3 separate regions of the Homo sapiens genome follow, and regions 1 and 2 are each linked to region 3. Evidence: fine-mapped QTL for protein levels in blood plasma. A gene starts in region 3. Each other region holds a variant in brackets. All regions are shown on one strand. Distances are between the middles of the regions.

The links. PIP is the chance, under the fine-mapping model, that this variant and not a neighbour inherited with it causes the effect. Protein levels are from antibody-based Olink assays in UK Biobank. Linkage for the fine-mapping came from a reference panel and not from the study's own genotypes, which makes the PIPs less certain.
Region 1: its variant is fine-mapped to the plasma level of the CCN3 protein (UK Biobank, PIP above 0.99).
Region 2: its variant is fine-mapped to the plasma level of the CCN3 protein (UK Biobank, PIP 0.94).

The regions. Positions count from the first base shown.
Region 1 is chr8:119,451,774-119,459,962 of GRCh38, forward strand. No RefSeq gene overlaps it. Among named protein-coding and RNA genes, the nearest start is that of CCN3, 39 kb to the left of the region's middle. The variant G/A (reference allele first, on the strand shown) is at 3,166.
Region 2 is chr8:119,358,433-119,366,621 of GRCh38, forward strand. All of the region lies in intron 1 of LOC124902009 (a long non-coding RNA gene), which reads right to left. Among named protein-coding and RNA genes, the nearest start is that of MIR548AZ, 37 kb to the left of the region's middle. The variant G/A (reference allele first, on the strand shown) is at 3,608.
Region 3 is chr8:119,409,951-119,418,119 of GRCh38, forward strand. It overlaps CCN3 (cellular communication network factor 3), which reads left to right and starts at 6,496. Exons shown (of 5, transcript NM_002514.4): 1 at 6,496-6,666; 2 at 6,794-7,019; 3 at 8,108-8,169. The coding sequence starts at 6,583. It overlaps LOC124902009 (a long non-coding RNA gene), which reads right to left and starts at 6,359. Exons shown (of 2, transcript XR_007061077.1): 1 at 5,021-6,359.

The sequences.
Region 1 (8,189 bases), 42 kb after region 3:
TGAGTAATTAAACTTTCTGATTGTCAGATAGCAAATGTCAATATGTTGGTGGAAAAAAAGAAAAATTTTAGTATGTATGTGGTCTTTTATAATGAAGTAGGTTTTATTTCTTCGGCCAATATTATGTACATTTATTAGTGATTGGAATGTTTTCTGGGGAAAGGGAAACTTTCTTGGATTTCTGCATGGGCAACTTTGACTTCAAGAAAACCACAGTCTCTGCATTTCAGAATACCCAACACACCACCTATTTGTTGAATACTACCTCAATTTTGTTCTTTGCTCTGGCAGAAAGTGACCACTAGGGAGCATTATAGTTGCATATATTTCTTTGCACACATTCAAGTGATTTATCATCTTAGGGCAAAAACTAGTTTTCAAAACAAAAATATCTTTATATCTACGTTTGCTTAGCCATTTTTTTACTTTTCCAAGAAAATTAAAATGTAAATTTCCTGCCCCTTATCTCCATTCTTCATACCACTCAGAAATCCTTCCACAAATAATTGTATTTGGAATATTTCCAAAGAAGAAACTGAACTTCTTGTTTCTCTTGTGACTCTAGCGATTTCTTCATTTATCACATTATCTCCAAGTCTCCAGTTATTTGCAAGCCACAGAAAATATGGAAGATAGAAAATTTTCAACCAGAATTTATTGGGCACCAGGCCCTGTACCGGAGTGTAAAGGTGCAGAAAAAGTCAGAGGTGGTATTACCCACACAACAGGTAGATTCAATTGCCTGGCAGGTGACAGCCCAATGACCATGACCAAGAAGGGTTTAACAAGGGGATATTATTATTTGCAATAAGGAAGGAGGACACCACAGATAGTTCCCCAAAGCAATGCCTCCTGGAACAATGGTGAAAACAGGGCTGTTATGAGGCTGGCTGGCTGAGTCATTGTATGTAGAGGTGGAGTCAAGGGAGCTTGAGTGCAGTCACTGATCATTCTTCTACATGTATTGCATGTATAGAAAATGGTGAATAAGCTCCTCCTTGGGCAGGGTTTTTAGTATGGTAATGAGTTCACCAAAATTCATCTCCAATTCAGGCATCTCTGGATCCAATTGGTTTTCGTTTTTCTGGGGCTGAGTTTCTTCCTGGAACTTTTTGAAACAATAAGAACTCAAGGTGCAACAGTTACATGTGGTTACTTTTCCACAGTTGTACCCCAAAAAACTTGGGGACCCTGGGTTACAGTGGTATGTATCCACCATTAGTCCATTCATACACTAAGGTAAAAAAGATAAATAACTTCTTACATTTTTAAGAGGTAATTAATACAATGGAAGAATTTCTATGGTGTTCTTTTATTATGTATATGGCAGCAAAGAAAGAATCTGGGCACAACTAGGTTGATTATATGACAGTTGGCCAAGCTTAGGGGAGAGAAAAGGAACTTTAGGAAGAGTATACAAAAACAAATTTAAAAGGACAAGCCATAAACTTTCATGATTGGAAGCCTATTTTCTACAAAACAATTAACCTGCATAAAAATGTACCTTCTAAATGGAGGAAGAAAAGGTAATCTTCAAACTCTCCTTTAAAAAAAAAGCAATGAAGAAAAATGAAGGATAACCTCAAACAGGTTGAGGGACAAGTAAGCAAAGGCAAAAGCTGAAATTGCCTTAAGGACAGTCACCCAAAGTTAAGAGCAACCTCTGCCTTCAAATAAAAGCAAATACACATCTTCTCTGGAAGAAAGTATCCTTAGCTTAGCTTAGATTCTGAGAATCCCCACAAATTAAAACCAACCATAGCTGAGCTTATACTCAAAGATCTCCAAACACATAAGATAAGCCACCATGAGTGAAAGTCATTAGAAGCAACAAATCAACAATTTTGAGACTTTACTACTATAGATATTAGAATTGTCAGACACAGAATATAAAATAGCTAGGTATAGACAGTTTAAATAAAGCTAAGATAAAAATTAGTCAAAGAGCAAAATAATGAGCCCACAGATTTGGAAAACAAGAAAGACAACTTTTAGGAATGAAATAACAGTTGTTTAAATATAGAACTACATACATGGATAAAAGAGCAAAATAGACATAACAGAAGTGAATTAAAAGATAGATCTCAAGAAGATATACTGAATGTAGCACAAGAAACTAACACGGAAAATATAGAAGAGAAGTCGAGAAATACCAAATATAGAATTAAAATACCTGATTTCTAATCAGAGTTCCAGAAAGACAGAACAGAAAAAGTTAAGAAAGTGCAGTATGTGAAGAGATAATGCCTTAGAACTTTCTAGGACTAGTTGGATTTATTATTTTATTTTATTTTACTTTTTTATTTTATTTTGAGACAGAGTCTCTCTCTGTTATCCAGGCTGAAGTGCAGTGGCACAATCACCGTACACTCTAGGCTCCACCTCCCAGGCTCAAGCAATCCTCCCACCTCTGCCTCCCAAGTAGCTGGGAGTTCCTGGGACTATAGGCACACATCTGTAGAGATCGTGTCCCATTATATTGCCCAGGCTGGTCTTGAACTCCTGGGCTTAAGTGATCCTCCCACCTCGGCCTCCCAAAGTGCTGGGATTAAAGGCATGAGCACCTGGCCTAATCAGATTTTAATTAAAGTCATGAATCTCTAGATAACACAAAGTACAATATGTTAAGCAAGACATATCATCTATATAATACTCTGTATCACACAGGGTACAGGCTGAAGTGCTGTAACAAAGAGATCCCAAGTTACAGTGGGATTAGGAAGATGAAATTTCATTCATTATCACAAAACAGTCCCACAGGTTGGTAGTTTAAGGGGCTAGAAGCTCTGCTCCTCAAGGAGACTCAGGAATAAAGTTCTGCCAGTCTTAAATTTAACTTTTGTTCTGGGTCCTAGACAGTTGCTCTGGTTGTCGCTAATTCCTAGCCATTAAGAACAAAGGAGAAAGAAGCCCGCAAGCTTTCTTTTAAGGATATGACACACATGTTGCACACATCACTTTGAGAAGAAAGTAGCCCAGCTTTTGACAACTCTGTGGGCTGGCATGCAAGATTTGAAAATGGAGGAGCCCCAGATACAATCTTTTACTATCCAGTAATTTTCTCACATGGGGATTTTTCAAAGTAAGCAAAGGCTAGGGTGGGGCTGGAAAGAAAAAGAAGTTTCCTGAATTCACAGTCTTACAGTTTGCAGTTCTCATGACTTT[G/A]CAGTATCAAAGCCTCACCATCTAGCAAAACCTGAGTCTAACAATCTTAAAGTTTCATAGTTTAGTTTTAAGGTGAAACAGGCTCTCAATGTTTGGTCCCAGGGAACTTCTAAAGGGTGAACCCTGAATCACTTCCAAAGCACTTAATGACATTGAGTCAAATCTGCAACCAAAAGCTCAATATAACTTCTGATAAAACCAATATCTCAGTCTTATGGCAGCAAGGAGGTTGGGGTTGGAATGAAAAGAAGTAAAACCACCTTGGACTCTTGGTTTTTTTAATGGCCCTAATAGTGAGATCAAATTCAAAACACCACCCCAAACCAGATCACATCCTGACTGGTACTGATTAGCACCCCTGTGAGAGCTACCAAAAAGGGTGTAGAACATTCCCTCAGCCAGTGGACGAGACCCAATTATATGCTATTTACATGAAAAATATTTTAAGTATAAATGGATATGCAGAATTTAAAAGTACAGAAAAACGTGAAAACACTTAAGAATAAGAATGTAGATGTAGTTACTTTAAAATAAGATAAAGTGTATTACAATGAAAGTTGTCATCAAAAAGACCACCCCATAATGTCAACATAGTGAATTCAACAAGAAAGATAACACTTCAAAATGTGTATGCCCTTATTATCAGAGTTTCAAGAACATGAATCAAAAATTGACAAAAACTGAGAAATAGACAAATTAACAATCAGAATTGGAGATTTTAACATACATCTCTACATATTTGATATAAGTATATTAAAAATCAATAAGGATAGGAAGGGTGTGGTGGCTCATGCCTGTAATCCCAGCACTTTGGGAGGCCAAAGCAGGTGGATCACAAGGTCAGGCGATCGAGACCATCCTAGCTAACATGATGAAACGCCGTCTCTACTAAAAATACAAAAAAAAATTAGCCAGGCGTGGTGGAAGGCGCCTGTAGTCCCAGCTACCTGGGAGGCTGAGGCAGGAAAACGGCGTGAACCTTGGAGGCAGAGCTTGCAGTGAGCCGAGATCGCGCCACTGCACTCCAGCCTGGGCGACAGAGCAAGACTCCATCTCAAAAAACAAAAAAGAAAAAAAAAATCAATGAGGATATAGAAGACTGGAATACTCTATCAACCGATTTAATCTAATTTAAATTTGCATAAGTCTACACTAAATAGCTGCAGAATACACATTCTCTCAAGTGCACATGTGAATATTAACCAGGATCTCCCATGTGGTAGATCATAACACAAGCATGAAAAATATTTTTATTTTATTTTATTTTATTATTATTATACTTTAAGTTTTAGGGTACATGTGCACAATGTGCAGGTTAGTTACATATTTATACATGTGCCATGCTGGGGTGCTGCACCCATTAACTCGTCATTTAGCATTAGGTATATCCCCTAATGCTATCCCTCCCCCCTCCCCCCACCCCACAACAGTCCCCAGAGTGTGATGTTCCTCTTCCTGTGTCCATGTGTTCTCTTTGTTCAATTTCCACCTATGAGTGAGAACATGCGGTGTTTGGTTTTTTGTCCTTGCGATAGTTTACTGAGAATGATGATTTCCAATTTCATCCATGTCCCTACAAAGGACATGAACTCATCATTTTTTATGGCTGCATAGTATTCCATGGTGTATATGTACCACATTTTCTTAATCCAGTCTATCATTGTTGGACATTTAGCTTGGTTCCAAGTCTTTGCTATTGTGAATAGTGCTGCAATAAACATAAGTATGCATGTGTCTTTATAGCAGCATGATTTATAGTCCTTTGGGTATATACCCAGTAATGGGATGGCTGGGTCAAATGGTATTTCTAGTTCTAGATCCCTGAAGAATCGCCACACTGACTTCCACAATGGTTGAATTAGTTTACAGTCCCACCAACAGTGTAAAAGTGATCCTATTTCTCCACATCCTCTCCAGCACCTGTTGTTTCCTGACTTTTTCATGATTGCCATTCTAACTGGTGTGAGATGGTATCTCATTGTGGTTTTGATTTGCATTTCTCTGATGGCCAGTGATGATGAGCATTTTTTCATGTGTCTTTTGGCTGCATAAATGTCCTCTTTTGAGAAGTGTCTGCTCATATCCTTCACCCACTTTTTGATGGGGTTGTTTTTTTCTTGTAAATTTGTTTGAGTTCATTGTAGACTCTGGATATTAGCCCTTTGTCAGATGAGTAGGTTGCGAAAAGTTTCTCCCATTTTGTAGGTTGCCAGTTCACTCTGATGGTAGTTTCTTTTGCTGTGCAGAAGCTCTTTAGTTTAATTAGATCCCATTTGTCAATTTTGGCTTTTGTTGCCATTGCTTTTGGTGTTTTAGACATGAAGTCCTTGCCCATGCCTATGTCCTGAATGGTAATGCCTAGGTTTTCTTCTAGGGTTTTTGTGGTTTTAGCTCTAACGTTTAAGTCTTTAATCCATCTTGAATTGATTTTTGTATAAGGTGTAAGGAAGGGATCCAGTTTCAGCTTTCTACATATGGCTAGCCAGTTTTCCCAGCACCATTTATTAAATAGGGAATCCTTTCCCCACTGCTTGTTTTTCTCAGGTTTGTCAAAGATCAGATAGTTGTAGATATGTGGCGTTATTCCTGAGGGCTCTGTTCTGTTCCATTCATCTATATCTCTTTTTTTGGTACCAGTACCATGCTGTTTTGGTTACTGTAGCCGTGTACTATAGTTTGAAGTCAGGTAGCGTGATGCCTCCAGCTTTGTTCTTTTGGCTTAAGATTGACTTGGCGATGCAGGCTCTTTTTTGGTTCCATATGAACTATAAAGTAGTTTTTTCCAATTCTGTGAAGAAAGTCATTGGTAGTTTGATGGGGATGGTATTGAATCTGTAAATTACCTTGGGCAGTATGGCCATTTTTACGATATTGATTCTTCCTACCCATGAGTATGGAATGTTCTTCCATTTCTTTCTATCCTCCTTTATTTCATTGAGCAGTGGTTTGTAGTTCTCCTTGAAGAGGTCCTTCACATCCCTTGTAAGGTGGATTCCTAGGTATTTTATTCTCTTTGAAGCAATTGTGAATGGGAGTTCACTCATGATTTGGCTCTCTGTTTGTCTGTTGTTGGTGTATAAGAATGCTTGTGATTTTTGTACATTGAATTTGTATCCTGAGACTTTGCTGAAGTTGCTTATCAGCTTAAGGAGATTTTGGGCTGAGACGATGGGGTTTTCTAGATATACAATCATGTCATCTGCAAACAGGGACAATTTGACTTCCTCTTTTCCTAATTGAATACCCTTTATTTCCTTCTGCTGCCTAATTGCCCTGGCCAGAACTTCCAACACTATGTTGAATAGGAGTGGTGAGAGAGGGCATCCCTGTCTTGTGCCAGTTTTCAAAGGGAATGCTTCCAGTTTTTGCCCATTCAGTATGATATTGGCTATGGGTTTGTCATAGATAGCTCTTATTATTTTGAGATACATCCCATCAATACCTAATTTATTGAGAGTTTTTAGCATGAAGGTTGTTGAATTTTGTCAAAGGCCTTTTCTGCATCTATTGAGATAACCATGTGGTTTTTGTCTTTGGTTCTGTTTATATGATGGATTACATTTATTGATTTGCATATATTGAAACAGCCTTGCATCCCAGGGATGAAGCCCACTTGATCATGGTGGATAAGCTTTTTGATGTGCTGCTGGATTTGGTTTGCCAGTATTTTATTGAGGATTTTTGCATCAATGTTCATCAAGGATATTGGTCTAAAATTCTCTTTTTTGGTTGTGTCTCTGACTGGCTTTGGTATCAGGATGATGCTGGCCTCATAAAATGAGTTAGAGAGGATTCCCTCTTTTTCTATTGATTGGAATAGTTTCAGAAGGAATGGTACCAGTTCCTCCTCGTACCTCTGGTAGAATTCGGCTGTGAATCCGTCTGGTGCTGGACTCTTTTTGGTTGGTAAGCTATTGATTATTGCCACAATTTCAGATCCTGTTATTGGTGTATTCAGAGATTCAACTTCTTCCTGGTTTAGTCTTGGGAGAGTGTATGTGTCGAGGAATTTATCCATTTCTTCTAGATTTTCTAGTTTATTTGCATAGAGGTGTTTGTAGTATTCTCTGATGATAGTTTGTATTTCTGTGGGATCGGTGGTGATATCCCCTTTATCATTTTTCATTGCATCTATTTGATTCTTCTCTCTTTTCTTCTTTATTAGTCTTGCTAGCAGTCTATCAATTTTGTTGATCCTTTCAAAAAAACCAGCTCCTGGATTCATTAATTTTTTGAAGGGTTTTTTGTGTCTCTATTTCCTTCAGTTCTGCTCTGATTTTAGTTATTTCTTGCCTTCTGCTAGATTTTGAATGTGTTTTCTCTTGCTTTTCTAGTTCTTTTCATTGTGATGTTAGGGTGTCAATTTTAGATCTTTCCTGCTTTCTCTTGTGGGCATTTAGTGTTATAAATTTCCCTCTACGCGCTGCTTTGAATGTGTCCCAGAGATTCTGGTATGTTGTGTCTTTGTTCTCGTTGGTTTCAAAGAACATCTTTATTTCTGCCTTCATTTCGTTATGTACCCGGTAGTCATTCAGGAGCAGGTTGTTCAGTTTCCATGTAGTTGAGCTGTTTTGAGTGAGTTTCTTGATCCTGAGTTCTAGTTTGATTGCACTGTGGTCTGAGATATAGTTTGTTATAATTTCTGTTCTTTTACATTTGCTGAGGAGAGCTTTACTTCCAAGTATGTGGTCAATTTTGGAATAGGTGTGACGCAGTGCTGAAAAAATGTATATTCTGTTGATTTGGGGTGGAGAGTTCTGTTGATGTCTATTAGGTCCACTTGGTGCAGAGCTAAGTTCAATTCCTGGGTATCCTTGTGAACTTTCTGTCCCGTTGATCTGTCTAATGTTGACAGTGGGGTGTTAAAGTCTTGCATTATTATTGTGTGGGAGTCAAAGTCTCTTTGTAGGTCACTCAGGAATTGCTTTATGAATCTGGGTGCTCCAGTATTGGGTGCATATATATTTAGGATAGTTAGCTCTTCTTGTTGAATTGATCCCTTTACCATTATGTAATGGCCTTCT
Region 2 (8,189 bases), 52 kb before region 3:
TCTCCCTCTTTTCCTTTCTCCAGCCTCCATTATCTTCCTTCCTTCCTTCCTTTTTTCCTTCCTTCCTTCCTTCCCTCCTTCCTTCCTTCTGTCCTCTATTTCTTTCTGGTAGTATATTTGCATTATTGCCAAGTATTTCTTTAAAAATATTTCTCCTTTTTAATATGTGCAGATGGCACTCTGTCCAGAACTTCTATTGAATGTAAATGATTTTTAAGTCAGCTCTCTTTTCTTACTTAAGACCTGTTTGTTTTCATTTCTTAGCTGCACCCAAGGAGTAGGATGCCTACCCTTCTGTCTAGTTTTCTGTAGCTTCAGGGTCTGGATAGAGGTGGATTTCGTCTGCTGGGCCCATGTTCAGCCTTTGTGGAAGAGCCCAAGTGCTTCTTTTTCTTCATAGATTTCTGCCAAACGTCCAGGAACCCAAGATCACCTAATCTGTGCACTCCTTCTGGGTTCACTTCCTTTCTTGAGCCTAGGGTTTTAGAATACAGTGAGCCAAGGCTGGTTTTTCGGCCTCTTCTAAGATTCCAAGTTCATGTGATAGTTCATATAAAATTCTCTTCTTATTTTTTTTCTCTGTTTACTTTCCTCCTTAGTTTATTTCTTTCCAAATTACTGTGAGTATGTGGAAGGAGAAGGGGAGGGGCAGTTGTTAATACAAAATCTCAAGATGTTGTCCACTAATCTTTCACCATACTGTTTCTGGCAATTGGACATTGCCAGAAGTTAATAATTGAGCCTCATTAAAATCTTCTATTTCTTTCTTTACCACTACATTTGGCAAATTAGAGCATGTGTGTATCTAAATGAATACTTCCTGTTGTTTTTTAAATTTTTTTAAATGTAGGGAGAAAAAAGTCCTGTGATTCTGGTTTCTTTCCAATATTTTAACACTATTATTTTCTTATATGCTTTTTTTATACATTGGAAAAGTTAAACATAATTTATTTGATAATATGTCTCATATGATAATATCATTGATACCAGAATCTGTGTTGTAATACTTCATAATCCTGGGATAATTTAGAAGAGAGTCAAATATTACATAGCTAGTATAATTTTACTGTCATACAGGTCACAGGCCTCAAGCTCGACTCAGAGGAATTTCTACAAAGATTCCATGTATCTTACTGATACACTATATATCACTGACTCTGTTCTCCATTTTCCCTCTTCTTTTCCATGATTCTTAACAATAGGGCAGAGGAATAGAACATAACACCATCTTATCTAGGAACATTGTCTCTTCCTTGGAGATGCTTATCCTAACACCATAAAGATGATAGTATATTTGGGACATCCATAGTGCACTGAATTTTCTACATGAGAAGGGTTCTTCCTTATCATAGAGTTGTTAGGGGAAAAAAAGCCATAATATTGTTAAGAAGATAACTAGAAAAAAAGAGAACAATTATTCAAAAATCATTGAAACACGAACTAGGAGAAAGTATTAGACAGTTGTAGAAGAGAGGAATATGAGCTTCAAATACTGCTTCAATATTAAACCCCTTTATATACACTAACACCAGACCTCTGAGTCACTAGGCCTCTTTTCACATTATCCTTCTTTTAGTGTCTTCTCAAAACAATCCCTACAGCCTTGCTATAAATATTTGAATAACTTCCAAGTAATCACCTGGATTCTTCTTAAAAGACCCCAGGATAGAAAACTCACTGGTTTGTAGGTCAGCCCAGTGCATCACCAAAAAGTTCATACCTCATACTCATAGGAAGCGATTGGCCTATTTTTAAATTTTAAAAGTAGAATAAAATTATATCTGATCCTTATAACTATGATAGAGATTTTCTGCTATATAAGCAAAGGCTAAGAGGAAACACTGGCCAATGAAAGGAGCAGTAGAACCATATGTGAAATGATGTTTTTTAGAATACTACCTAGAATCAATAATGTTGATTAAGAAAAGGGAAGAATAGGCTGCGCACAGTGGCTCACGCCTGTAATCCCAGCACTTTGGGAGGCCAAGGCAGGCGGATCACTTGAGGTCAGAAGTTCGAGCCCAGCATGGCTAATAAGGTGAAACCCATTCTCTACCAAAAAATACAAAAATTTGTCTGGTGTAGTGGCATGCATCTGTAGTCCCAGCTACTGGGGAGGCTGAAGTGGGAGAACGGCTGGAATCTGGGAGGCAGAGGTTGCAGTGAGCCGAGATTATACCACTGCACTCCAGCCTGGGTGATAGAGTGAGGCCCTGTCTCAAATTTAAAAATAAAAAAAGAAACGGGAAGAATGCTGTGCTTTATATTAAATCAAAACCCTCTCTCTCTCTCTCTCTCTCTCTCTGTATTTTCAGTGCCTAAAACTCTGCCTGGCATATAACGCTTAATACACATTTTGTGGAATATATGAATGTGAGATCTTTCTATTAATACTACATCAAACCATTGAGACCTCACACAACAGGTATATTTCCTTTTCTACACAACAGGTACCATGGTCTCTAGGGACTTCCCTTGTCTAGGATGAACATTTCTGATTCCTTCAACAGTTCCTAAAAGTTCTTATATTGACTGCCCTTCACTTCACGCCAGCAGTAGGACTTCGAAGTTGCCCAGCATAGAGCCTAATATTGCCTCTCAACAATATTTTGGGTGAGATATGTCAAGGTAAGTGCTGGAGTGAGAGGAGTAAGGGGAGTGAGCTCACTTGCCTGAAAAAAAGAAAAGCCAAGTTTTTTTTTATTTACCTGATTTGCTTTCTGAGCACCTCCTTATAGCCTTTTAGAGATCATTCTTCCCAATGCATCTCAACATTCTTTTTCCACCCCTGAGGCAGTCACGTAAGGATCTTTTACCTCCTCTCCTTCGCTGCCACAGAACTGGATGTTCTTTCCAGATTCTCACATGATCGTGGATTCTCTCAATCCTCACTTCTTTTTATTTTTATTTATTTATTTATTTATTTATTTATTTATTTATTTATTTATTTATTTTTGAGACGGCGTCTCACTCTGTCTCCCGGGCTGGAGTGCAGTGGCACGATCTCCACTCACCGCAACTTCTGCCTCCCGGGTTCAAGTGATTCTCCTGACTCAGACTCCCAAGTAGTTGGGATCACAGGCACCCGCCACCATGCCTGTCTAATTTTTGTATTTTTAGTAGAGATGGGGCTTTGCCATGTTGGCCTGGCTGGTATTGAACTCCTGACCTCAGGTGATCCACCCGCCTCAGCCTCCCAAAGTGCCGGGATTACAGAAGTGAGCTACTGCACCTGGCCCTCACTTCTTTATGCTGATCTCTACCTTGAGTATTCTGTGATGCAAAAATACATGAGAAAATGGGGCCATCACTTCAAATGCAGTTTTTGTTCGATCATCATTTTTCACATCTTGTTGACATTTGGAGAAGAGTACAATATGAAGCTTCTTTTGTATTTCCACCATGAAATTTAGCAAGTTTGAATCAATCCTTTGTGAGGCCCATCCTTTTCCTCCCCCATTAGAATGAAATATAGCTTTAAGCTTGAGTTATGTATCTTAGAATATGGTTTAACAAAAGCTAAAACCTAAAAAAAAAAAAGGGCATGGCATCCTTGGTATTTGTGGGTGAACTCTGTGGTGACTGCTTTAATTAATTTATGTAATTG[G/A]AATTTCACCAAGACATAAATTTACTCATATCTATTTTTAAAGACAGGAATATTGATCTTGGACCAGCAATAAATTCCTGTAATATTTGTCCTCAGTAAAAAGCCAAGACAATTCTAGGCCATTTCTTTTTGTCTTGAAAACGTTATGCCAAAATCATCATTTTGTTGGCTGCATACATCCTGATTTATATTCGATGAGAGTTATAAAAGGCTTTTATAGTGGAGATGGCCGAGTGACATTTTCCTATAAATCACGATCATTTTTACTGCTACAAAGTTCTAGGACTGAACTTCAAATACAACCGTGCTGTAAACTCTGTGGATGGAACCACATACTTGCTGAATGAGAAACATGTTTCCCTTTCACCATGAGTGACTGCATATTCCAGTCAGTCTCTGGCAGATGAGAGCATCACTAAAACCCAGGGAACCATGCTCAGCTTTGATGAAGCAGCTTGTGAAACGCAGGTCACCCAGAACACCTTTGAATACAGCTATGCTTTCAGCCTCATGAATAATTCAGGTCCATATAGATACTATATGTTGAGCTGAAATAACCTAGCCATTAAAGGTAACAAGAATGAGGGGAAGCTAATTTTGGCAAACATCAGTATTGTGCATCAGAAATATAACACTATAGATCAGAATCCTATTTCATTCAATATGAATCCTTATGAGAATGTCTTCTGATCACAGGGGTGTCATCTTTGCACATAACTCTCCTCATCCTCAAGTGACCATACCTGTTAGATTCAAAGGTAACTTGCTTTTGTAAGAAAGTAGCGTAGAGCAAAGATGAGGGTACCAGGGATTAGAAGCTCTGAATTTTCTTTCAACCCATCTTAGTGAAAAAAAACAACAACCTGGATTTAGAAGGCAGAAGAATGGCTTATGTGATTTTAGAAAAGGGATATTAAACCTCTTCATCCCTAGGTTATTTATCCATAGTCACAGATGTTCTATTAATAATATAGGTGAAAGAAATGTCACCGTATCCCCTACTCCCACTAAAGTAAATTAAACCTGGTTTAAGTATCCACTTACTAAGAGAAGCAAAAGCTTTAGGGCCAATTCTGGATGTTTTCTACCCTACTCTTTGTGGGTAACAGAACCCAGACTTACATAGTCAAGGAAGACTGTGACAGTGGCATCTCATCTTCAATAACAAAGTGGTAGACATTGTGATTGTTTGTTTCCTAAGACTGTTATCCACTCAAATATGCACAGCTTTTTCTAGCAGCCTCATGTTCTTCATGTCACCTTCAGATATAGAGATCTTTACCTAGGCTCCCAAAGGAGGAGCTTGGTGCCAAGTCTCTCCTGGTACCAGCGTAAGTCCCCTACACCAAAGAGCTTTCTACCTTCATAGTTTTATTATGAGCAGGAATTATCCAATTCATTACACTTTGTTCACATTTGCAGTCTGGTAAAATTATCTATCTGGTTTAGACTGGGCTCTGTTTCAATCCACTGAAACCACAGCCTGCCTCCTCATTTTGTCTCTGACAATGGAGCCTCATCATACCGAGAGCCTTGTACATGCACAAGCCTAGGCTTGCATGCATGAGTGTACACACACACACACACACACACATGCATGCACACACACAGAGTTCACTGACCCTTGGAGATAAGGAGAATTCAGACCTGCTGGATTTTCTTGGAAGAAGTGGGGATAGTGGAGATGTTTTCATTCTATGTCCTGGTGAGTCCACAGCAAGAGTGGGGGTTGTGAGGAGCAATTACAACACCTCATTTATTACATGAAATACAAAAAAAAAAAAAAAAAAACTCATCTACTTTCTTGGTATTACCAAGTAAACACTCATTGATTCTAAAGCTAGACTTCCAGTTTGTTTCTCTCTCCTGAGCTCCAAATCTGTTTAGTCAACCCTCCAAGTCCCTCTTGGCAACATGTTAAAAAACAAATTCACCGGCCAGTCGTGGTGACTCACACCTGTAATCCCAGCACTTTGGGAGGCCAAGGCAGGCAGATCACGAGGTCAAGAGATCGAGACCATCCTAGCCAACATGGTGAAACCCTGTCTCTACTAAAAAAATACAAAAATTAGCCAGGCGTGGTGGCACGTGCCTGTAGTCCCAGCTACTCAGGAGGCTGAGGCCAGAGAATCGCTTGAACCCAGGAGGTGGAGCTTGCAGTGAGCTGAGATTGCGTCACTGCACTCCAGCCTGGTGACAGAGTGAGACTCTGCCTCAAAAATAAATTAATTAAAATTTAAAAAATAAAAATAAAAACCAAACTCATCATTGCCATTCCACTCACCTACCTACCATTTCTCCTATAGTATGTATATCTGTAAATGACATCACCATCATCCAGCCGGAAGCATAGGTCTTATCCTTGAGTCCTCCCCCTTTCCCCTTTCTCAGTCACATATAACCAACCACTTAAAGTTCTATTGATTTTCCAAACTTAAAATCACTAAAATCTGTTCACTCATCTTCTACCATTCTGGGTCAGTCCCCATCATTTTTATCCTGGGTTGCTACTATAGCTTCTTAATTGCTCTTCCTACTCCCAATTTTGTTCTGGGCTTGCTCACAGCCAAAACACGTTACAGCCAGAGTGTTCTCTGTAAAATGCATGTCATTGCCATGTGCTAATAGTAATCTCTCAATAATGCTTTTTGTCTGATTTTAATACATCTCCCCTACTTTCTATTGGTTACCTTTTTCCTGCCATGTCCTTTTCCATTGTATTCTTTAGAATAAACTAAGATGCTGCAGCAAATATCAAATATACCAAAATAGAATCATGGTTCAGTACAGTAGAAGCTTTTCCCCGACAGTCCTGAGCAGGTATCAGTTCTCTGGAGATGCTGCTCCTCCAAGCTGTTATTCAGGGACTCCAGATGCTTCCATCCTGTTGTTCTACTATCCTCTAAGGTCTATCTGCACCTGTATGCAGCCAGATCCAGGAGAAAGGGCATGGTGAAAGGCATTGGGGAATCAATGCACCAGGCCTGGAAATGGCACCTATCACTTCCATTCCTACTACACACCACCATACCCAAGAAGAAGGGGGCATGAATTTTGTGACTGACCAATACATATGTTGTTGAAGTGAACAGAAAGATAAAAGGGCATAATCATCACTCCTTCAGTTTGTTAGGAAAGGTTTCCTAGGAGTGGTAGATTCAGGTGTCTGAGTGGCAGAAGAGTGTTAGTATAATTAAGAATATGAGCTTTTGAGACAGACAGACTTAGGTTTAAATCTTGCTTCTAGTGCTTACTAGTTGGCTCAGTTAGGTAATTTATTTCAAATCATCCAAGTAGTGATTTGAAATAAATCATACCAAAAACCATGAACTTTTTTTAAGGATTAAGGGAAATTAAATATTTGGAACAATTGGCTCGATCTCTGTCAAAAGGAAGTCTTGCTAAATGGAAGTAATTACCATTAGTTATTGGCTGGGTGAGATGAAAGCTGGAAAGAGAGGTTAGAAAGAAACAGTTTGGAATATGGTGAATTTTGCCTTGTGACATTTGGTAAATTATTTAACATATTCTAGACCTTTGTTTTTTTCATCTACAAAATGAGCAAAATTCCTTATACCTGATAGATTAATATGAGACACAAATGAAATATGCATATAAATGTTGGCATCATGTTCAATCCTTATTCATGATAATTATGATTATGGAAGTAAACTTGGTATATCAGGAAGGAGAAATTATTTACATGGTAAAAACATTTTTCCCCTTTCAGAGAGAATAACTGACTGTTTCAAACTCTCCACTTTCTCTCTCTTTAAACTCTTATTAAGATTTTGAATTTTCAAACCACAAATCTCAAGTATGCAAAAAATGCAAGTATTTTTCCTACTTTCTGTCCAAAACTCCTATGGTACCTAGAGCAGAAATTGAATTTTGCAATTTCAAGGGAAATTCATTCACTCAAAGTTTTTCTCAATCAATTCCAAGTAAACTCAGCCAATTTATGGTTCAGCACCTCCCTGACTTTGTGGGGCTCCTAAGAATTAGGAGACCCTTGAAGTAACTTAGCATCCAGGGTAAGACACTTTATTTTAAGTCATCAGCTATCCTGCTCACTTCCACTAAGATTTACACAACTCTGTTTCATTAGGGGTTGTCCTTAGACCTCCTTGGCTGTCCTTTGTCCTCCTTGCTGTCACTGCTGCCTAGTCCCTGTCCACACGGCATGTGCATTCACCCCAGCTGCTGTCCTGACTACGACATCCCTTGGCACAACTGGATTTTCCACCATGGTATTCTGTATCTACAGAGATTCCACAGTATTCTGTATCTACAGAGAACTCAACAGGACTGTCCCAGTCTCTCTGCCCTGCCCACTGTGCATCCACATCTCCTCTACTCCTTCTGTGTCATAATCACTTGGAAAAATATCTACAAGTCTGTTGATTCCTCAGGTTCAAAGAGAAAAATCATGGTAATTTCTCTTTTATTTGAAGATGTCCCAAATCACTCGGGAGGTCCGGCATCTCCCTCTTTCTGAATAATCCCAGGAGAAGGGCAGAGGCAGAGCCCTTCAGAGAAACAACAACATCAAACTCATTTGCTTCCTCTCAGTGTTTCTCTT
Region 3 (8,169 bases):
ATATAGTGGAAATTACCTTGTGTTCTATCAACTCCCTGGGGCCCCAGAAAAGGGACATATGAATGAAATTCAGAAAAGAGCAACAAAATTATTAAAAAGCTGTGGGGTTGATTTATGAGGCACATTATGAAAGCTAAGTACATGTGGCTTGGCTAAACAATGACTAAATGAAGACAGGATGAATGCCTTTGAGTTTACGGAGAATACAATCACTGAGAAAAAAAGAGGCAGGGAGTTGTCTTGAAGGTGATAACATCACTATCACCACTTTTGTTCCTTTTTTTTAGTTGTATGTTGTTTTTAAACTGATACATCATAATTCTACGTACTTAAGGGGTACAGTGTGATTTTTCAAGACACGTATAGATTACATCATGATCAAATCAGGGTAATAGCATAGCCATCACCTCAAATGCTCTTGATTTCTCTGTGGTAGGAACATTAAAAATCCTGTCTTCTCGCTATTCTGAAGTATTTGAAACTTGTTTTTATTATACTTTAAGTTCTAGGGTACATGTGCACAACGTGCACGTTTGTTACATATGTATACATGTGCCAGGTTGGTGTGCTGCACCCATTAACTGGTCACTTACATTAGGTATATCTCCTAATGCTAACCTTCCCTCCTCCCCCAACCCCATGACAGGCCCCAGTGTGTGATGTTCCCCATCCTGTGTCCAAATGTTCTCATTGTTCAATTCTCACCTATGAGTGAGAACATGCGGTGTTTGGTTTTCTGTCCTTGCAATAGTTTGCCCAGAATGATGGTTTCTAGCTTCATCCATGTCCCTACAAAGGACATGAACTCATCCTTTTTTATGGCTGCATAGTATTCCATGGTGTATATGTGCCACATTTTCTTAATCCAGTCTATCATTGATGGACATTTGGGTGGGTTCCAAGTCTTTGCTATTGTGAATAGTGCCACAGTAAACATACGTGTGCATGTGTCTTTATAGCAACATGATTTATAATCCTTTGAGTATATACCCAGTAATGGGATGGCTGGGTCAAATGGTATTTCTAGTTCTAGATCCTTTAGGAATTTTCACACTATCTTCCACAATGGTTGAACTAGTTTACGGTCACCAACAGTGTAAAAGCGTTCCTATTTCTCCACATCCTTTCTAGCACCTGTTTTTTCCTGACTTTTTAATGATTGCCATTCTAACTGGCATGAGATGGTATCTCATTGTGGTTTTGATTTTCATTTCTCTGATGGCCAGTGATGATGAGCATTTTTAGTATTTGAAATATTATTGTTGACTATAGTCACCCTATGGTGCAATTTAACAGGATAATTTATTCCTCCTAACTGTAGCTTTGTACCCACTGACTGACTCCTCATGTCCTCCCCTCCTGACTTCCCCCAGCTTCTGGTAACCACTATTCTACTCTCTACTTCTATGAGGTTGTTTCATTTTTTTAATATGGGGGCAGGGGCTGTGCTATTTTAACTACCTGCTACAGAACTTAGCACCAATTTTTTAAATTTTTCATAATAATAAGAAAGATAACACAATAGCACTGAAAACAACATAGTACCTTTAGAAAATGTAGGCAATTCTCTAAGTGTGTTCTGGATAAGAGTACTGACTGAGAAGTAATAAGAATATAAATCAATTAACAGGCTATGTGAAAAAGAAAAGGCAAAAATGAGCCCCTGATGTCACATCTGTGATGAGGGGATGAAAGGAGAGGACAAAATTAAAGGGGGAAAAGTAAATTGGCCAAAGTCCTTGCAGTTCATAACCCCATGGTTAGCTGCCAAGCCCAGCAATTCAAAAAAGAATCTCTAATAAGGTATCCCCTGACTTCTCCCAGAGACCTCAACTGCCACATGGATTATTTCAAACAGGAGAAGATCACCAGCCTGTATTCCATCCTTTTAGTGCCAAGCAAGACCCAGAGAAGTTTCATGTCACAGGCTGATGGGTGGTGGCTGATAGGACCAATTTAGCTGCTGCTGAAGAGCAAACAGCCTCCAGTTTGTTTCTTATCTCATCTTATGCAGAGCAATGAAAAGTGGCAAAACTTAAAGTGGAGTTTGCAGTATCTCAAAAGGTCCAAGAACTGACCACTTGCCTGACCCTGAGGTGGATGTTGGGGATGTTACTGTAAATACGACATGCTCTGTGTCCTCAAGGACTCCCAGGCAGGACAGGGAGGCAGTCACCAAAACAGACAAGTACAGTCACATCTTACATAACAATATTTTGGTCACCTACGGACGGCATGTACAATGGTGGTCCCATAAGACTGTAATGGAGCTGAAAAATTCCTATAGCCTAGTGACATAGTAGCTGTCATGACATTGTAGCACACTCATGTGTCTATGGTAATGCTAGTGTAAGCAAACTTACTGCACTTTCAGGCATATAAAAGTATAGCACATATAATTATGTATAGTCCATGTTTGATGATGATAATAAGTGACTATGTCACTGGTTTATGTATTTACTATACTTTTCATCATTATTTTAGAGCATACTTCTACTCATAAAAAAAAGTTAACTATAAAACAGTCTCAGGCAGATCCTTCAGAAAGTATTTCAGAAGAAGACATTGTTATCTGAGGAGATGACAGCTCCATGTGTGTTATTACCCCTGACAACCTTCCAGTGGGACAGGATGTGGAGTGGAAGACAGTGACACTGATGATCCTGACCTTGTGTAGACCTAGGCTAATATGTATGTTTGTGTGTTATTTTTCACAAAAAAAAAAAAAATAAAAATATTAAAACTAGAAAAAAGCTTATAGAGGCCAGGCACAGTGGCTCATGCCTGTAATCCCAGCACTTTGGGAGGCCGAGGCAGGTGGATCACGAGGTGAAGAGATTGAGACCACCCTGGCCAATATGGTGAAACACTGTCTCTACTAAAAATACAAAAAATTAGCTGGGCGTGGTTGTGTGTGCCTATAGTCCCAGCTACTTGGGAGGCTGAGGCAGGAGAATTGCTTGAACCAGGGAGGCAGAGGTTGCAGTGAGCCAAGATTGCACCACTGTACTCCAGCCTGGTGACAGAGAGGGACTCCATCTCAAAAAAAAAAAAAAAAAAAAAAAGCCTGTAGAATAAGGATATAAAGAAAATATTTTTGTACATCTGTACAATGTATCTGTGTTTTAAGGTAGGTGTTATTACAAAAGGGTCGAAAAGTTAAAAAAATTAAAAGTTTATACAGTAAAAAAGTTACAGTAAGCTAAAGTTAATTTATCATTGAAAAAGGAAATTTTTGAATAAATTTAGCTTAGCCTAAGTGTAGTGTTTATAAAGGCTATAGTAGTGTGCAGTTATGTCCAAGGCCTTAACATTCACCCACCACTGACTCACTGACACCCACTGCAAGCTCCATTCACGGTAAGTGCCCTACACAGGTGGACAATTTTTTATCTTTTATACCATATTTTTACTGCACCTTTTCTAAGTTTAGATATGTTTAAATCACAAATACTTACCATTGTATTACAGTTGCCTACAGTATTCAGTGCAGTATATTCTGTACTGTTTGTACGTTTGTAGCCTAGGAGTAATAGACTATATCATACAGCCTAGGTGTGTAGTAGGCTACACCATCCGCATCTGTGTAACTACACTCTATGATGTTCACACAACAATGAAATCACCCAAGGACACATTTCTCCAACAATATCCCCATCATTAAATGGTGTGACTATAATGATTATCCAGTGAGTTATGAGATAAAAGAGATAAGCTCGGCATCCCAGGCCTGCACTGCGGATAACATCTATCCCGGCATGAAGGATTTCAGAGACTATGTCCTGGAGGCAGTGAAGCATGACATGACATGATTATCATCAGATGGTATCACTTTCAATTTACAATTGTTTTAAGATGAAGATCCTCATCCTAGAGCATTTATAGCAGATGATGGAGTGGATGTGTATTGTTTTGCTCACCAAGCTTGCTTTCTTTTTAAGGAACAGTCCTTTCTTCCCAAGAGAACTGCTCTTTCTCTCCATTCCAACCATGAGGTTCTAACTAATCCCCATACTTCACCTTCCTTGTCCCCATTGATTAGTCCAGGGTGAACCCATCCAATTTAATTCCTGGAACTTTTAAAGTTGGGCCTAAGAGACAGGGACATTCCTTCTGTGGTGATAAGGTCATAAAGTAAGAAGATTGGAAGGATCATTTTTCCCTTATGTGGAAGTAATCCTGTTGGCCCTCCTCTCTCTAGATCCCAATTGCCTCTGAGGACTCCCTGTACCATTCCTGTGCTGTCACTATGTGAAACATCACAGCATCCTTCCAGTAAAGTCCTCTTTTCGCAAAAACTAGTTCAAGTTTGGTTTCCATCTCTTGCAATCAAAACTGAATAGCAATTTTACACTTGCAGTGACTTCTTGACATGTTAATCCTTGTCTTAAAGTTACATTTTCCCTGTCACCACTCCCACCCCACTCTTTCCAAGAAGAGCTAGCCCAATCTCCATGTTGCCAATTTCTCCTTGTTCTATCTGAGTCTATTCATGCTTGGAACACTTGGCCGATGCTCTTTGCCTCCCCATTAGCAGTGCTTCTAGTTGCTCCATTTCAAAGTACATTAAAATGCTGTCTACCAAGAGCCACCACCAGAGAATCCTACTGAGTGGGTCAAGAGTGGGGCTCAGGAATCTGTATTTTTAACAAAATACATGCTGGTTGATTCGATCTGCAGCCAGATGGAGGCATCATTAGGCCAAATGGCTTACAAAACCTATCAGTTTTTTTGTTTTTTGTTTTATCTTTTTCTTAAACTTTTATTTCAAGTTCAGGGGTAAATGTGCAGGTTTGTTTACACAGGTAAATGTGTGTCATGGACATTTGTTGTGCAGATTATTTCATCGCCCAGGTATTAAGCCTGGTACCCATTAGTTATTTTTCCCGATCTTCTCCCTGCTCCCACCCTCCACCCTCCAAAGCCTATCAATTTGAAGAGTAGGTAAATGTCCTACTCAAGAGTGCAAATGAACTGTTTCATCTCTAGTTAAGTTTGAGTACTACTCAGTCTCATTTACCTCAAAGAAAGCAGAACTATTAGAGGCTTGGAAGTGTGTCATAGTGGTTTCAGGCTGCCGAGAGAATTATCTAGAAGGGGCTTGAGGTGACCTCATCATCTGCGGGTGTTGCAGAGGCAGACCTGGCCCCTTCCGCAAGCTGCCTTTGATTTCCTTCATGCTGGGGACAGATGAGGTAGAGGCCATTTGTTTCTTTTTAAACTCTAGAATTACATCACAGGCCTGTATAATTTTCCTTAAAAAGTGTTTTTTGTTTTTTTCCAAAGCAACTATCCTCAAAAGAGCTGGGCATAGTTCTCCTAGGGGCAGCACCAGTGTTGAAGTGTGGGGGGAAACTGTTCTAAATCCTTCAAACAATGTCACCTTTGGAGCAGTAAAACTGCTCCCTTTTTCCCATGAGAGATGACAAGCATGCCCCAGCAATCATTTCTTGAAAGCGGATGCCCGGTGAGAGAAGGATTTGATTTGCTGAAGGGTCAGCCAAGTTAAGCCAGTTTCTTCCTCATTTCTTCCCTGGCTGGAGGTTTTGATGGTGGTGATGGTGGTTGAACTGAACCCACTTAGAAAACTGTCAAAGGTTTCTGGACTCTCAGGTGTGCCGTCTCACATTTGGTCTGCTACAGCAGGTGCTTCAAGGCTTTCTTCTGCCAAGATTTCTTTGTTTTATTTTATGATGTTTTCTTTATGTGTGTGTGTGTGTGTGTGTGTGTGTGTGTGTGTGTGTGTTTTACTTTTATTTCTAACAAACCTGTGGACCTTGGGGTTTAAGACTGAGTGAAGCTAGAAGGATTAGAGTCAAAAGAATTTTGCCATTTGGCCAATAGCATTCCCCACCTCCTGACATATCGATTTTTTTTCTAGATTCCCTTCCCCCTGCCACTCCCCTCCCCCCAACACACACACACTTTTCTCTTTCTCCTCTTTCTCTCCTTTCCTCCCTTGCTTCTCTCCCCTCCCTCTCAACACATTCAATGAGTGCCCTAAACGGTGACAAACTTGCATGTGCTTCCCTCATGACTAAACCCCTGGGCCTTCTGCCAATCCCCTGCAGATGGCCCCAAACTGCAGGCATCCCGTAAGGGGACCCCACGCTTGCAGCCCTGGTTGGAACGGTCAGGGTGGAGGAGGATGGTGGGGAGTGGTGGTGTCTTCGTCCTGGGAGAAGGCGAAGCAACTTCCAGGAGGAAACGGGCGTTTCCTTCCCACGCGCTCGAGCGAGCCCTGGGTCCTGGCCTCGGAACTCCACCCAGCCCCTCCCCACCCTCTGGGAAAAGCCAGTCGCCACACACAGGCACACGCAGGCCCCGGCGCCGCGCCCTAAGGAGAGCAGCACCCACAGCCAATTGCCATGGCAACCCCGGGGTTCGTTCCACTTCCCCACCCAGCCGATCTCCCCCCTCCTCCCTGCACTGCAGCCAACCGGCTTGTGCGCGTCCCAGGAGCGCGCTATAAAACCTGTGCTGGGCGTGATCGGCAAGCACCGGACCAGGGGGAAGGCGAGCAGTGCCAATCTACAGCGAAGAAAGTCTCGTTTGGTAAAAGCGAGAGGGGAAAGCCTGAGCATGCAGAGTGTGCAGAGCACGAGCTTTTGTCTCCGAAAGCAGTGCCTTTGCCTGACCTTCCTGCTTCTCCATCTCCTGGGACAGGTAAGTGGCACACCCTTAAGATGCCCCCAAGTTACTTTGCCCGCCTTGGTGGCCCCCATTTGGTCACCGGGCTCACTGCGTCTTCTGTCCCAGCTGAGTGGTTTCTCCTTGTCTCGCCTGCCTTCAGGTCGCTGCGACTCAGCGCTGCCCTCCCCAGTGCCCGGGCCGGTGCCCTGCGACGCCGCCGACCTGCGCCCCCGGGGTGCGCGCGGTGCTGGACGGCTGCTCATGCTGTCTGGTGTGTGCCCGCCAGCGTGGCGAGAGCTGCTCAGATCTGGAGCCATGCGACGAGAGCAGTGGCCTCTACTGTGATCGCAGCGCGGACCCCAGCAACCAGACTGGCATCTGCACGGGTAATCCTGCTCCCTCTGCTGTTTGACCTCTTCTCCTGCAGCTAAGTGAAGCTGCTTCCTCCCTTCTCTTTTGTATTCCCCTTCCCAGAGGGCGATAAGCAAATAATAATAATGCAATAAATGACATGTATAGAGCACTTACTGTGTGTCAGGCATGGTTTGGGGAGCACTTGGGGCTTTGGGGAGCGCCAGAGCCAGAAAGGAAACCTGCCCTGGGGGTGAAAGGCATTCCTCACTTGGCTTCCTAGACAAGAATCTAAGCAAAGGGGGAGCCACGCAGAGTTAAGGGCCAGTGAAGTCATTTCCTTCGGACACTTCTAGGGGGCCACTTGGGGCTGATGGAAGCTCGGGTTTACTCACACGCTCACAGTTTCCCAAACTGCAGTTGGGGAAAACCCAGCAGGTTTGTTTTCACACCTGTAATTGTCCCATTTGAACCAAAGCAGCTGCTAGTCTCCTGGGATAACTATGTAACCCTTTTCTGGCTGCAAGTAAAATAAAATGCAGGCAACTAGCCAATCCAGGCTTCTAAAACGTAATCAGTCGGGGATCAATTTTTCACATGATACAACATTGTAGTTGAAGATTGTCCCTTCCTTTCTGGACAGGAGGGCTTTTACTTTTTTCTCTAAGCTACTGATGATTTTATTATGCTTGAGTGTCAAGGAATCTTAATGCCCTTCCCAATTTGATCAGCTAACCTGTTGGAAAACATAAAGTACACTTTTTCTCTTTTTAAGTCTAAGCTGCTGGAGTAGGAAACTCTAAGGAGGTTCTCGCAAAATGACTGAACATTGGGAAAAATGGCCAGGGGACCTTGGGGACATCACTTCACAGTTGCACACCTCTTTCCTCATCCATAAAATGAGTGGCAAGACTAGATGATCTTGAAGGTTTCTTCTTGCTCTGAGAGGCCTCCATGAGGACATCACTCTACAGTAGATACATGAGAAACCAGATCGCCTGAACTAGAAAAGGACTTGGGTTTTGGAACATGCCCTCCAAATCTTACATAGCTTCTTCACTGTATTGTGTTCTTGTTTTTCCTCTTCCTCTTTGCTTTTCACTTTGCTTCCCCAATATTCTAGCGGTAGAGGGAGATAACTGTGTGTTCGATGGGGTCATCTACCGCAGTGGAGAGAAATTTCAG